3 separate regions of the Homo sapiens genome follow, and all the other regions are reported to be linked to region 1. The links are microRNA targets in miRTarBase. Many come from high-throughput screens and were not tested one by one. Region 1 holds a microRNA gene; each other region holds the end of a gene's coding sequence.

Region 1 (4,681 bases):
TATATATTATTAATATATATACATATTTAATATATATATACACACAAAAATCTTGTTGGTTCTGTTCTCTAGAAAATTCTCACAGATAACATTCATTTAAACATATCTATTCTCATATAGTTCTCACAGAAATTAGGGAAGCTTGATATTACCTTGTCCATAACAGGAGACCTCAGGTTCACTTTGAACACATGTTCTACTCATAACTGCACTCAAGCATGAGTATCTAGTGAGATTGTGTTGCTACAAAAATAAAATAAAATAAAATAAAACAAAATAAAATAAATTAGCTGGGCATGGTGGCAGGCACTGTAGTCCCAGCTCCTCAGGAGACTGAAGTGGGATGATTGCTTGAACCCAGGAAATCAAGGCTGAAGTGAGCTATGATTGCACCACTGCACCCCAGCCAGGGCAACATATGTTTTTTGTCTCTTACCAAAAAACACAAAACCTACACTAAAAATTAATTCATTGTTTGTAAACCTGTATTTATCTTAAAAATAAAAAAAGCGGTAGTGAAATAAATATAAAGAAGTTGGGATTAAAATTAGGATACAAGGATATAGGTACATGATTATGAGATATGCTTATTAGTCCATTAGCACATCCCATTATATCTCCCGTAAACTAAAAATTATCTTAAGAAAAAATATTGTGACTTCCTTCTAAATTCATATATCAGCAGTTCTACATATTATCATTAAAAACATAAGCTTCGGCTCAAAGGAAATTTTACAGGTGCCCCCTTTCATAAAACAGAAAAATCAAAGAGCTCTAGGACAAATTAATTTCAGAAACCTGTCTTCTCAGACTCTTTTCCCACCTGTCCTCACACATCAGCAAAGTAGCACCCAACAAAAGCACAGGAAATCCCAGAGCTCTGTGGATTTTGCTTATGAACATACAGTCCTATGAAAAATAAGGTTACATATGTATCAGACAAGGAATGGTAATAATAAATACTGAAGAATTAAAGGCTAGGAAATAAGAATAACATGTTTGTATCATAGTTCAAATTAAATTAGAGTAGCAAGATATTTCTTAGGTAAAGCATTTCCAATCATATTTATACACATATATTTTAAGGTTAAAAGTATACATATTGATTCATTCTTTTGGTCATTTATATGTTGAAAAATAATATACTGATTTTCTTTTATCTAACAGAAGGGCTTAAAAATTAGTATGCTAATTTATTTAAAGTCACCCAACCTTATAGAGCATATGCATAATCCACTTCTAAGGAATGAAACATAACAGGACAAAATAAAGTCATAATGAATACAATAGATATATTCAATGATGATGCAAAAGTAATTTCAGAAGCCTGTACCACTGTCACTTAGGTGTCCAGATGTGTCACTTAAGAAATTAAAGGTCAGAAGTTTTCATAGTTCTGACAGTCTTATAGTCATACCATTGAACTTAAATAAGACCTACGCTCTAGCCTTGGAAATAAATAAAAAACGGTAAAACCAAAATGACTATTTGAAAGCTTAATCAGTTATTAAAATAGTTAATCATCAATTGTTTGATTTATGGTCAGGGATAATCCATTCTTGGTAATCCTGATGACAGAAATGACCACAAAGTTCCATTTATTTTAATAAGCAATTACTAGTCAACAATTAGGCTTTTGTGACCTTGTAAAGGTTACACAATCTTTTCTGTCATAGAATAGGACTATAGATACTGTTTCCAGAAGAGTAAATGAAAATGAATGCCCAGTGAATACCTAATTTTAATATATGCCATCAAAATGTACAATTTGGTATGTTAAGGTGATTTTTTTTGCCCACACCAATGTTTTTCTTGTTAAAATAAAATGTTGCTTTTTACAAAAGTACTGCATAACAATGATGTCTTCAAGCCCCTGATCATTTACCAAACTATTTAATTAATATATTAATTGGGCATAATAATCCAAATAAAATATGATATTTAAACTTCAAAATGGTATGCTTAGGATTTAAGGGGCTGATTCAATTAATGTTTCTGATGTATCATGTTTTTTTAACCAAGAAATATTACAAATTACTTTTCAAAAAAAGAACAGTAGAGACAGAGACAGCAACTATGTAAAACATGTATATTTAGGTAAAGTAACCATAATTTCTGGTGTGTTTGACACAGGTTTGATCACTGTTAACACTAAGCACCAAATAGAAGGATTCTAGAGTATATTTACCAGGGATCTCTTGACTTTGTGTGTCTTGTAATACAAAGTGGCTTGTTCTCAATGGCTCAGTAAAGGAATCTTAGGCTTCATGGTGTAGATCAACTGCAGAAGCACCTGTGAAGCACTATGAATTACTTTGTAAACCACCACCACATTAGCTTAGATATGGTGATTCACAAAGAAATCCACAGCACTTCACAGTTTGTGTAAAGCCTGGTACCTATGAACCAACAAAAACAGTACCCTTTGGCCACCAAAAGTTGAGGAAGTATTTCCATCTAGTTCACAATCAATTGAAGAATATGCTCAGTTTTGCACCACCCTCTTTTAGCTGAAACACACAAGAAACACTGAACATTTATTTTAAGTAAATAAAACTTAAAAATAAATGCATGCTTTCTATATTATATACCAGTAAATTTCATTTAAAAGAATTCCTAATACAATAACTAGCATGACATTATGCAGGATGAAAAAACAGGGTTCTGCTCATCAAAATAAAAGGGCATGGTTATTAATATAGATGTCAGGAGTAGGGAGTAGAATAAATAATAAAACTATATGTAATTCTCACATCCATATCACAGTATATAAGTGTTGCTGGGATAATTTGTTCTAAAGATATCCTCAGTTACTTAGCTTCCCACTTTATACTCATATAATCTCATATCCTATGACACAAGCTTACCAATGTTACAAATCTGCCCTTGTACCCCTGAACTTAAAATAAAAGTTCAAAGGCAATCATTAAATGAGTTTAACCTGAGTGTTTTTTCCTCTGATATTTGTCCAAGTAAGTATTTTTTCATATGACTGCTGAAGTCCAAGAATGTTTATAAAACTAAATTCTATATTATACATATTAGGTTCAACTCTGAAAGAAAACCACACCAATAAAAAATGAAAAACAAACAATAAAGTTACTCTCCTTTGCAAAATAACCAGAATCCCACCTTTTAACTTTTATCTAAAGAGCAAAAAGAAAGGTTTCATTTATAATTAATGAAAAGAATCTATAAATCTTCCCAGCCTAGTAAGCATAATATCAATCAAGTAATTCATGCTTTTGAAAATTTCAACATTTTTCAAAGTAACCATCAAATGTCAACATTAATTAAAAGTTTGCTTTATAGAAGCTCATGAACATAAGAGTCCTAGGCAGTTCACCACTGTCAGTGTAGGTCACTGCTCAGGAATACCCTACTCACCTCCACCAACCACACATATAACAACCAAGCCAAACTTGCTAAGTATCTGAATAATTAAAAATATTTAAATAAAAAATTTGTAGAAAATATGTATGTATGAAAAAAAAATATTTGTTTTGCGCTTATCATGTGCCAGGCATAGTCTTGGTTAGATGCTGGGGATATAAAAACTCCAGGTTTCAAGAAATACAAAGGAGAAAACAAGAATTTGAAAAAAGCAGTAATAGGTGTTATGAAAAGTTTCCATATAGGGCTAATGGAGACATGGAGAGGCCACTTAATTCAGTGCTAAGAGCGTTGATTACAGATGTCTTCTCTAAGGGAATACCATATATAAGAGAACTGAAAGAGTAGCAGGAATTAGCAATGAGAAGGGTGGGGTAAGTGTTCTAAGCAGAAGAGAACACATATACCACGGCCTATCCAAAGAAATAACGTGATTTTTATTTTATTTTTTGGTATACTATAGCTGAAAAGGAAAACTGCTGCTACAGTTAGAGTAGGTGAACACAAGTGAGCATCACCAGATCAGAGGCAGCAGGGACAGAAAAATTTGAAGTAAGAGAACTCCAGAATAATGAGGCAACCTGTCTGAAATATGGGCAGAGTAAAGGAGCAGTTATACAAAGGTCCTCCAGCTCTTCATCAAGTGTCACACTCAATCCCAAACTGGCCCAGGCAAAACCTCTTGAAGAATCAGGCCAGTTTCCCCAGTGAAATTCAGGCATACTAGTTGGGTGGAATACATTTAGAGTTTGACATGGGTTTAAAAACAAATCACCCTGGCCGGGTGTGGTGGTTCACGTCTGTAATCCCAGCACTTTGAGAGGCCGAGGCGGGAGGATCATGAGGTCAGGAGATCGAGACCATCCTGGCTAACATGGAGAAACACCGTCTCTACTAGAAAAATACAAGAAATTGGCCGGGCATAGTGGCTTGCGCCTGTAGTCCCAGCTACTCGGGAGGATGAGACAGGAGAATGTCTTTAACCCGGGAGGCAGAGGTTGCAGTGAGCCAAGATCGTGCCACTGCGCTCCAGCCTGGGTGACAGGGAGAGGCTCTGTCTCAAAAAACAAAACAAAACAAAGAAACAAAAAACAATCATCTCAACTTAAAGAGATCTTAAGTGGCTCTTTGAATAACCATTCCAATCCAAATGTAAAATTAAGTTGATCCAATAATAATAGTGAAATAATCCAGGGTGTGTTTTTACAATATTTTATACCTCTTGTTGCTATTCTTTCACTAAACAAGACAAATATGCTCTCCATATGTAGCACTCTATGTTAGTCGG
Region 2 (4,000 bases), not on the chromosome of region 1:
CTGGGCTTACTGTCTGCGGAAAGCAGATTGTGGGACTTCTCAGCCTCCATAATCACAAGAGCCAATCCCTCATAATAAATTTATTTCTATATATATCCTGTTGATTCTCTTTCTATGGCAAACCCTGACTTAGTAATATGACATGACTGTAATTGGCATTTTCAAAATGGTGGCAGTATGAAGGCTGAATCTTTCCTATAGGTAAGAAATTGTACCTACCATTAAACTGTGCCATAGCAAGTATAGTGACTGCTTACATTGCCCTCAGTTTGAAGGCTTTTAAGAAGTGGATAAATGGAACGCCAAGAAAAGTTGCAAACTTGCTAAGATAACAAAACAAAAAAGACATCAAAAGAAAATGTGACTTTACTCTGATAAATTCTTTTGTAAATTTCACACCATTTTATATAAAGTGAAATGATTGTTTTAGTAGTTCCTTTTGAAATGAACTGGCTTGTTAGCAGTTGCAAGGGATAGTTTTTAGGGAGCTTAACCTGAACGTTTTAGGATGTAAAGAGCTGCAAATACTCAGTCCGTAAGTGGCATGGGAGTACATTTGGAGACTTCAGCCTGTGAGCTAAGAATATTTTTTACATTTTAAAATGGAGAAAAAAAAAACTTTCATGACATGAAAGTTATATGCAATCTGGATTTCTATGTTGACAAAGTTTTACTGGAAAACAGCCATGCTCATTCATTTACATATTGTTTATGGCTGCTTTCACATTACAAAGGCAGAGTTGAGTAGTTATTACAGAAATATTATGGTCCACAAAGCCTAAATTATTTTCTATCTTTATAGAAAGTTTGCCAACTCCTTTTCTAAGGAGCTGTGCTTTAGACCTTGCTGGAGTTTAACTCCTAGGATCTCCTGTGATAACCGTTTATGATCAGTGAAATTCCAAGTACCCGCGACTTAACATGTCCCAAAATAATCCACGTTGGTGGGAGGGTGACACACAGTTCATGAATGCAAAGAGAAGTCCAATCATATAAACTTAAAAATCAGTTTATCTTAAAATTTTTTTGAATTAGAAGAAATTGATTTCACATGAAAATATAACATTCTGAAGGTAAGTATTTTAAACATTACAACTGTTGGCTGAAATATTTACAAAGTTATAATAAGCTTATAACTGGATGAAAGCATCTATAAAAATAAATAGGCACCCTAGATGTAAAACTTTTACATGAAATAAAATGATTAGTATATATGTATCAATCTGTATCTGGAGTGTTGAATCAACAAAAATAAATGGGCATTTTCTAGTTTGTGTAGTAGTACATGAGTCAGGAGGTTTCAACTGGACAGTACTTAAAAGAGGCAAAACTGGACATTTCTATTTGATATCTACAACTCAACTGAGTTGAAAAGACAAATGTCTGAGACTGCTGTTAAATACAAAAATTAGTTTAAATGTTTCAAATAATACATTTCCAACTCACATCTTAACCAAATAGAAAAAAAAAACTACACAAACTGTGAAAGCTATTAAAAAACTTGAAGCCCATTTTTCTAGTATCTTACAATGTTATAAAAGAAGAAAAACTTTGGTATTTTAAATACAGGTTTACAAACTTTACATTATTTACAAACCCTCCACACTAAAAAATTATGTTAAAAATAAGCTTTCTTAAAACAAAATTAATTTGGCATTCAAGTATTTCTAACTTACGAGAATATAAAGTAATGATCACTCACTATTATAGTTTAAAAAGGCTAGTAAAAACTATAGGCAGAAGATAAAATTTGGCCAAGACTTGGTAACTGGGTGAAGTTAGACTTTTATAAGCAATTATTTTCTGTTTAACAGTATTCACATTAAATTAGTTACAACATTTTAGAATGTTTTAACACGATTTACGCAATCAGTCAAGTGGCTACATTTACTAGTTTATTGAATATGAGGTTTATCCATTTAGCAATGTAAGGAAAACTTTAGTTCTGTTTCTCAGTTATCAGGAGTGAACATAAAACTATTCTAAACCACAATTAGTTTACCAGCATAGTACAAAATAAAATGACAACTAACGAAATAAAGCAATTAAAGTAACTTATTTTTACTCATAAGGTTACCATAATAATAAAAATTCCTTTAATTTTCAAAGCACTCTTCATGAAAAGTAGTTGGGGTAAAATTACTATTTGTTCAAAGTAGAATAAAAGGGAAGGATGCTCTAATTAAACATTTTATTAAAATTAAACTCTCTATATGAAAGGTAGAAATTTAATCTGGAAACCTAGATAGATTTTCAAATTCAGATAAAATGGGTTGACAACCTATAAGCAGGTAATATTACAGCAAAGAAAATGTAGGCAATTACAGTGACATTCCCAATAAGAGGGTGCCCTACATTAATTCCTAACACTGGTGGTTAGCAGCCCAAAGTAAACCAAACCAAAATAAAGACCTTTCACATTTCATATAAAATTAGAAAAAAAGTAACGAGATAAATAAATACACTAAAGTTTAAGTATTTTAACTTTTTAACTTACATGGCTAAAGTAGCATTTATGAATACCTATAATAGTCAAAGGCCTAATTTATCTTAACTAGATATTCTGAAGACAAAAATTCTAGGAGCAAAATTAAATTCCATCCGATCTTGAAAACTTACAAATTGTTAATCATATAAGGCTTTTTTTCCCCAAATGCTATCAAATTCATAAGTCATTTTTTTTAAAGACACTTAAAGGGATCATATGCAGTGACTATCATAGAAGTCAAAAACAAATGGGTGAAGCCCTTTTCTGGTTACCCATTAGAAAGTGCTTCTTCATAAAGCAATTCTTTGACAAAAAAGTACCAGGCTATGTATCACCTGGTACTTTTCAATTAGCATAGTTTATAATCTCCATACATGAGTACTGGTTAGTTTAATACTTCCCAGTCTACTGGCCACAAAATAGGGGGACAAATTTAATTTTTATTCAACTGTAGCATATGACAAATGAATTATTATATCTCCCTGATTTTCTATTTTTCACGGCACGCCAAGACTATTCAAAGGGAATTTCTAAAATATCTAAGATATTGATCATAAAATTATATATGTGTATACACATATACACATACATATGTATAGTGATTAACAACTTTAAAAATGCCACAGGCTTTAATTTTATGTATCACTAGGTTTGGTCAGTAGGTTCCTATTATATTTAAATGGCCTCTGAGAAGTAAAAGTTGGTCAGTTTTACCAGTTATCTATTACAATGTATGCTAGGTTTATATCTTTGTTCAGAAGGGCAGCTTGAACCAAGATTATTATGTAACACAGGTCTAGTCCTTTTTCACTCTAAGATAGTGAATTATTACAAAAGCCACTGCTCTCTGGAAAAGAGAGCTTGGGCCTCTGATGGTATTTCAATCTATATGTATCCGTCATGCAGCTATCAACTGAAAAATAGGTAGTTAATGAAACTGTCTCATTTGGACAGGTAGAAATAGAGTCTAGTTCTGGTTGGCAAAATGCATCAATGGCACCTGAGTTTGCCTGAAAATCGTTAGTTGAGGAGCTGGATGGACAGTTTGGTGTGTTGCCAAAACATTCTCTCACTTGAAATGTTTCTTTATGTCTTTCATCATTCATATGTGTACTCACTTCTAAACTTGGTTCTGAAGCTGTACTTAAACTGTGCTTCGGAAGATGAGAGGTAGCTTTAAACACCTCTGTAAGTTTGACATCAGGTGTAGATTCGCTTTTCTCTGACTGTGGCACACTGGTTATAGCATATTTCTTTGGTGGCAAAGGGGGTGGTAGATTCTGGCAAAAAAGTTTTGGCATCTGACACCCATCAGATCTGCTGGCTGACCGAATTATACATTCTGTGGATAGAGAGTTCTCAAAGTAACATTGATCCATGATATTTTGTTGCTGGATGAGAGGAGCAGTTTCTGGCTTTAACCCAACAGTTCTTAGGTGTGAAGACCATAATGAAGATGGTTCATTACTGTTCACTCTCTTCCCAGAAGCAGAGTTATCAACGTGAAAAGGC
Region 3 (4,000 bases), not on the chromosome of region 1:
TAATACAAATTTTAATCCAGATCTGGTATACTTGGTACTTATTTCAACGTAGTCAAAGTGTATGAAATGTAATAAACAAAATAAAATGTACTTTTCTCTCCTCCTCTCCACTTAGAGCAGGACATTTCTGTCAAGCTACTATCGAGATCACAACGTGGAACTCTCAAAGCTGCTGCACAAACTGGGTCAGCCTCTGCCATCCTGGCTGAGACAGGAGCTGCAGAAAGTAAGATAGCACTGAGAGAAAACTTGAGACTTCATCGTCCATGTAGAACACACCTTTTCCAAAGCTTCCAGAAGCTACCAAAAGGCAGTTGAAAAATATACCTCTTCAAATGAGAAAAAAGAACAGTTTCTTCCATGTGCTGGCACGTGGATGATTAGAAAAAAAGAAAAAGTATGTGTTACAAGCCTTGAGGCCTGTGGCCTTTCTCTTAACCCATATCTGAGCCTGTGGGATTATTGTAGACTACTGTGCACTCATGTGGAAGTCAATTGCAACCAACATAAATATCAAACACAAATGCAGAACTGTTCCATTTCATAGTAATATTTACACTTTTATATATCAACTAAGATTGTGTCTCTGTAGGTTTTTAGACCACTGTTTGCCTGTACGATGTTTTCTTATTATTTTATTCTATAAAGTGTCCTATGAAACAAGAAGCAAAATAAACATCACAATGTAGCATAAAATGTCAAAAGCATAACACCCATGAAAAATGCTTGCCAAAATTTAAATCCACTTAAGTATTTAGAAATAATTGTAAATTATAATTTGTGCTAGATCAGAGTGGAAAAGTTATATATGAGTGTTATCTGCACCAAAAAAAAATAAGTGCTATAGCAAAAGTGATTTTTTCATATACATAGTCTAGTGAATATATGTAAAAATTACTAACTCTTCCATCACAACGTAATTGTTATACTGAAATATATACTGTAAAGCTGTTGGATGGTAAATAGAAACACATCAAGTACACCAAAACAGTAAATAACAATGTAAAGTGTACTGACTGAATCCTCTAAAAGGGAGAAATTGTAGGGGTCTAAAAACATATCATCGAGAATTCTATGTCCACTTGCTGTAAGCTGTGAATCTATCCCAGTAGTCCTCACTAGTTCTACAGAAATGCATGCCTAGAGTCTGAGGTATGTGTCATCTCCAGAAACAGGTTGACTTTTAAATGTGAATAGCTATTTTTAATGCTCCCCAAAACAAAACCTATTAAACTAAAACTAAAAACAGTTTCCCTAGATGATGTGGTTAGGCTATTTACATTTAGGTTATTAAAAAATTGCATTTTCCCAGATAGTTCAAAATAAAATTATGTAATGTAGTAGAGATTTATAACAAAAAACAAATTAATATATTATTTGTAATCTAATGTTTGCAATGATACTTTTGATATAAGGCAAAGAAACATAAGCAGAGCAGAGGCCCATTTTTGAAAATATTTCACCCATCACTCTGGTGGAAGTAACAGATCATAGGTACAATTAAGGATTAGCTACTAAATTAAATGCAGGAAGTACAAAGATGAGCAAGTCATGCTCTTGAAATATATTTACATTTCAATTGTAAATAATATATATGGTTAATAAAGTTTCCAAAAAAGAAAAGAATACATCATACTTATTTTCCTGTTAATATTTACTTAATTTTTTTTTTTGAGAGGGGGACAGAGTCTCACTATGTCACCCAGGCTGGAGTGCAATGGTGTGATCTCAGCTCACTGCAACCTCCGCCTCCTGGGTTCAAGTGATTCTCCTGCCTCAGCCTCCTGAGGAGCTGGGATTACAGCCATGCACCACCACGCCCGGGTAATTTTTGTATTTTTAGTAGTGACAGGGTTTCACCATGTTGACTAGGCTGATCTTGAACTCCTGACCTCATGATCCACCCACCTTGGCCTCTCAAAGTGCTGAGATTACAAGCGTGAGCCACCATGCCCTGACTACTTAATTTTTAAATGTACTGTACATATACATAAAATTTAAGTAGTAAATTAATTCCCTGCTATGATTATAAGCCTTTATAAAATATTATCAAAGGTATGATTAGAAACAAATGGGAGGAAAACCCATAGTAAAAATATTTTCATTGTCATTTTAATGGGTAAAACTATCAATTACTAATTAGAAAATGAATTGTGAGATCCACTTACTATAAATTTTTAACTGTACATTATAATTACTTTTTTAAAGTTTCATGTACCTAAAGCATATGCTAATTTTTAAATATACTATTAGCAGAAAAAATTGGAAAAATCACCAATTTTTAAGACTCTTGACTCTAAAAGCAAAATCAAAGTGATTTGGACAAATATGGGAAACACAGTCTTCATGCTTACTGCTGTCTCTTTTATAGCAGCAGATGCCAGACATGCTAGGAAAATTACTATAGTCTTCCATCTCCACCAACTTAAGAAAACTGGCTTAGGAAGGTTAAACATGAGAATAGGCCTCAGCAGTTATATACAGTGTCATGTTTTCATTTGGCAACAACATTTATTCTAATAAAAAAAGAAAAGAAAAACTGATACATTTATGCTTTAATGGTAAGATGTACATTTGAACTGCTAAGCAAAGCTGCTAATGGCCTATTTTGTTTAGGTAAATCGAGTTGACTGAACACTTCATCCTTTTAAATAGATGTCAAAAACATACTCCGTGTTTGTATAAAGACAGGAGAAAAAGGAAGAGATCTTACCAAAATTTATTCATTCACAAGTACATGTATTACGCTAGCTAGAGCAGCAAACCTGTGAAAGGATTTTTGACCACTCAATGTGTCTTGAAGACAGCATCAAATTCTAGAGGACATGCATACTTTCCACATTATATACTCCAACTGGTTAATATGCTAATCTGAAAGTAACATAAATACATATGAGAGAATAATGAGAGATAATCTGATTTAAAACTAGCTTTGTATAGAATTCCCTTTTTCATTGTTTAAAATATGAAACTTCCTCAGGAAGAAATGAAATGGTTATTTCAATGTTTATAGCTGTAATATTCTTGTCATTCACATTGAATGAAAATTACTGGAAACATTTTTTTCTCTGAGTTTTTTAAAATAAAAAACCTAGATATAATTCTGATAGTAGCATGGTACCTCATATGTACAACAATAAACTGATAGGAAAATGAAGAGTTTGGACCTGGTGATTTTAGGTAACAGTAGGTATTTTATTGTTTTGGCCTGGGAGTGAGTGGGAGGTGGTTACGGAACATAGATACTACTAACATAATTCAAAATGAAGAGATAGAAAATTTTCAAGTAGGATATATATCTATCCTATATTTATAAAACCTTTCACAGATCCTTCTCCTCCTAAATTTATATGTTACTTGTAGTGAATTTTTTTTTAGTTCTAATAAATATAATGCAGTTTCTAGGTCATTTATGGGACCCTAGAATAAGAGAATAAGAGAATCACACAGCTGTTACTAAATGGACTTCAGAACAGGAATGATTATAGCATTTCTTACCCCTAGTATTCTGTTCTGCTCCATACCAATGAGCCCATTTCTTTCCTCAGAGTTTAAAAGGTGTTCATCTCTCTTTTCTAAAAATCTGGCAAAACAATCTCTGCAAAAAAAGGAGGGAGGGGGGATTCGGGGAGTTTAAATTTAGCCATTTATCTTCATTCTCCACACATTTTCTTTTCTCTCTTCCAATCCCTTTCTTTTCTAGACATCAGCTTTTCACATGTTGCAACCCACCCTATCTCGGGGCACCAGCTGAATACCCCACAGGCTTGCCTCCCACACACACAGCTCACTGATTGAGCTGGGACATCTCATCTCATCTTCTGCCTTCAGACTGTGATTTACAGCATTGGCTTCCCTGTTCCTCAGGCTTTCAGTCTCAGATTGGATTACACCGTTAACCACCCAGTCTCCAACTTGCACAGCAGATTATGAGACTTCTCAGCCTTATTAATTCGGCTTTTTTGGAGAACTCTAAGACACACAGTTTCACTTAGATTCC

What was found. The annotated mature microRNA hsa-miR-876-3p reads UGGUGGUUUACAAAGUAAUUCA and lies in region 1 at 2,307-2,328, opposite strand. An mRNA with a match to its seed (bases 2 to 7 or 8) in the 3' UTR can be bound and repressed. Matches are read on the target gene's strand: a 7mer-m8 pairs with bases 2 to 8, a 7mer-A1 pairs with bases 2 to 7 and ends in A, and an 8mer does both.
Region 2: the mRNA of USP53 is a reported target of hsa-miR-876-3p. Seed matches in the 3' UTR shown: 8mer at 2,371-2,378.
Region 3: the mRNA of NDST3 is a reported target of hsa-miR-876-3p. Seed matches in the 3' UTR shown: 7mer-A1 at 1,811-1,817.

The regions. Positions count from the first base shown.
Region 1 is chr9:28,861,330-28,866,010 of GRCh38, forward strand. MIR876 (microRNA 876) reads right to left here and starts at 2,377; the gene lies at 2,297-2,377. All of the region lies in intron 2 of LINGO2 (leucine rich repeat and Ig domain containing 2), which reads right to left.
Region 2 is chr4:119,292,512-119,296,511 of GRCh38, reverse strand. USP53 (ubiquitin specific peptidase 53) reads right to left here. Exons shown (of 19, transcript NM_001371395.1): 19 at 994-4,000. The coding sequence ends at 3,301. It overlaps ARLN (allregulin), which reads left to right. Exons shown (of 2, transcript NM_001001701.4): 2 at 1-93. Among named protein-coding and RNA genes, the nearest start is that of ARLN, 6.1 kb to the left of the region's middle.
Region 3 is chr4:118,255,478-118,259,477 of GRCh38, forward strand. It overlaps NDST3 (N-deacetylase and N-sulfotransferase 3), which reads left to right. Exons shown (of 14, transcript NM_004784.3): 14 at 116-3,157. The coding sequence ends at 235. LOC105377392 (a long non-coding RNA gene) reads right to left here. Exons shown (of 3, transcript XR_939113.3): 2 at 3,499-3,598. Among named protein-coding and RNA genes, the nearest start is that of SNHG8, 21 kb to the right of the region's middle.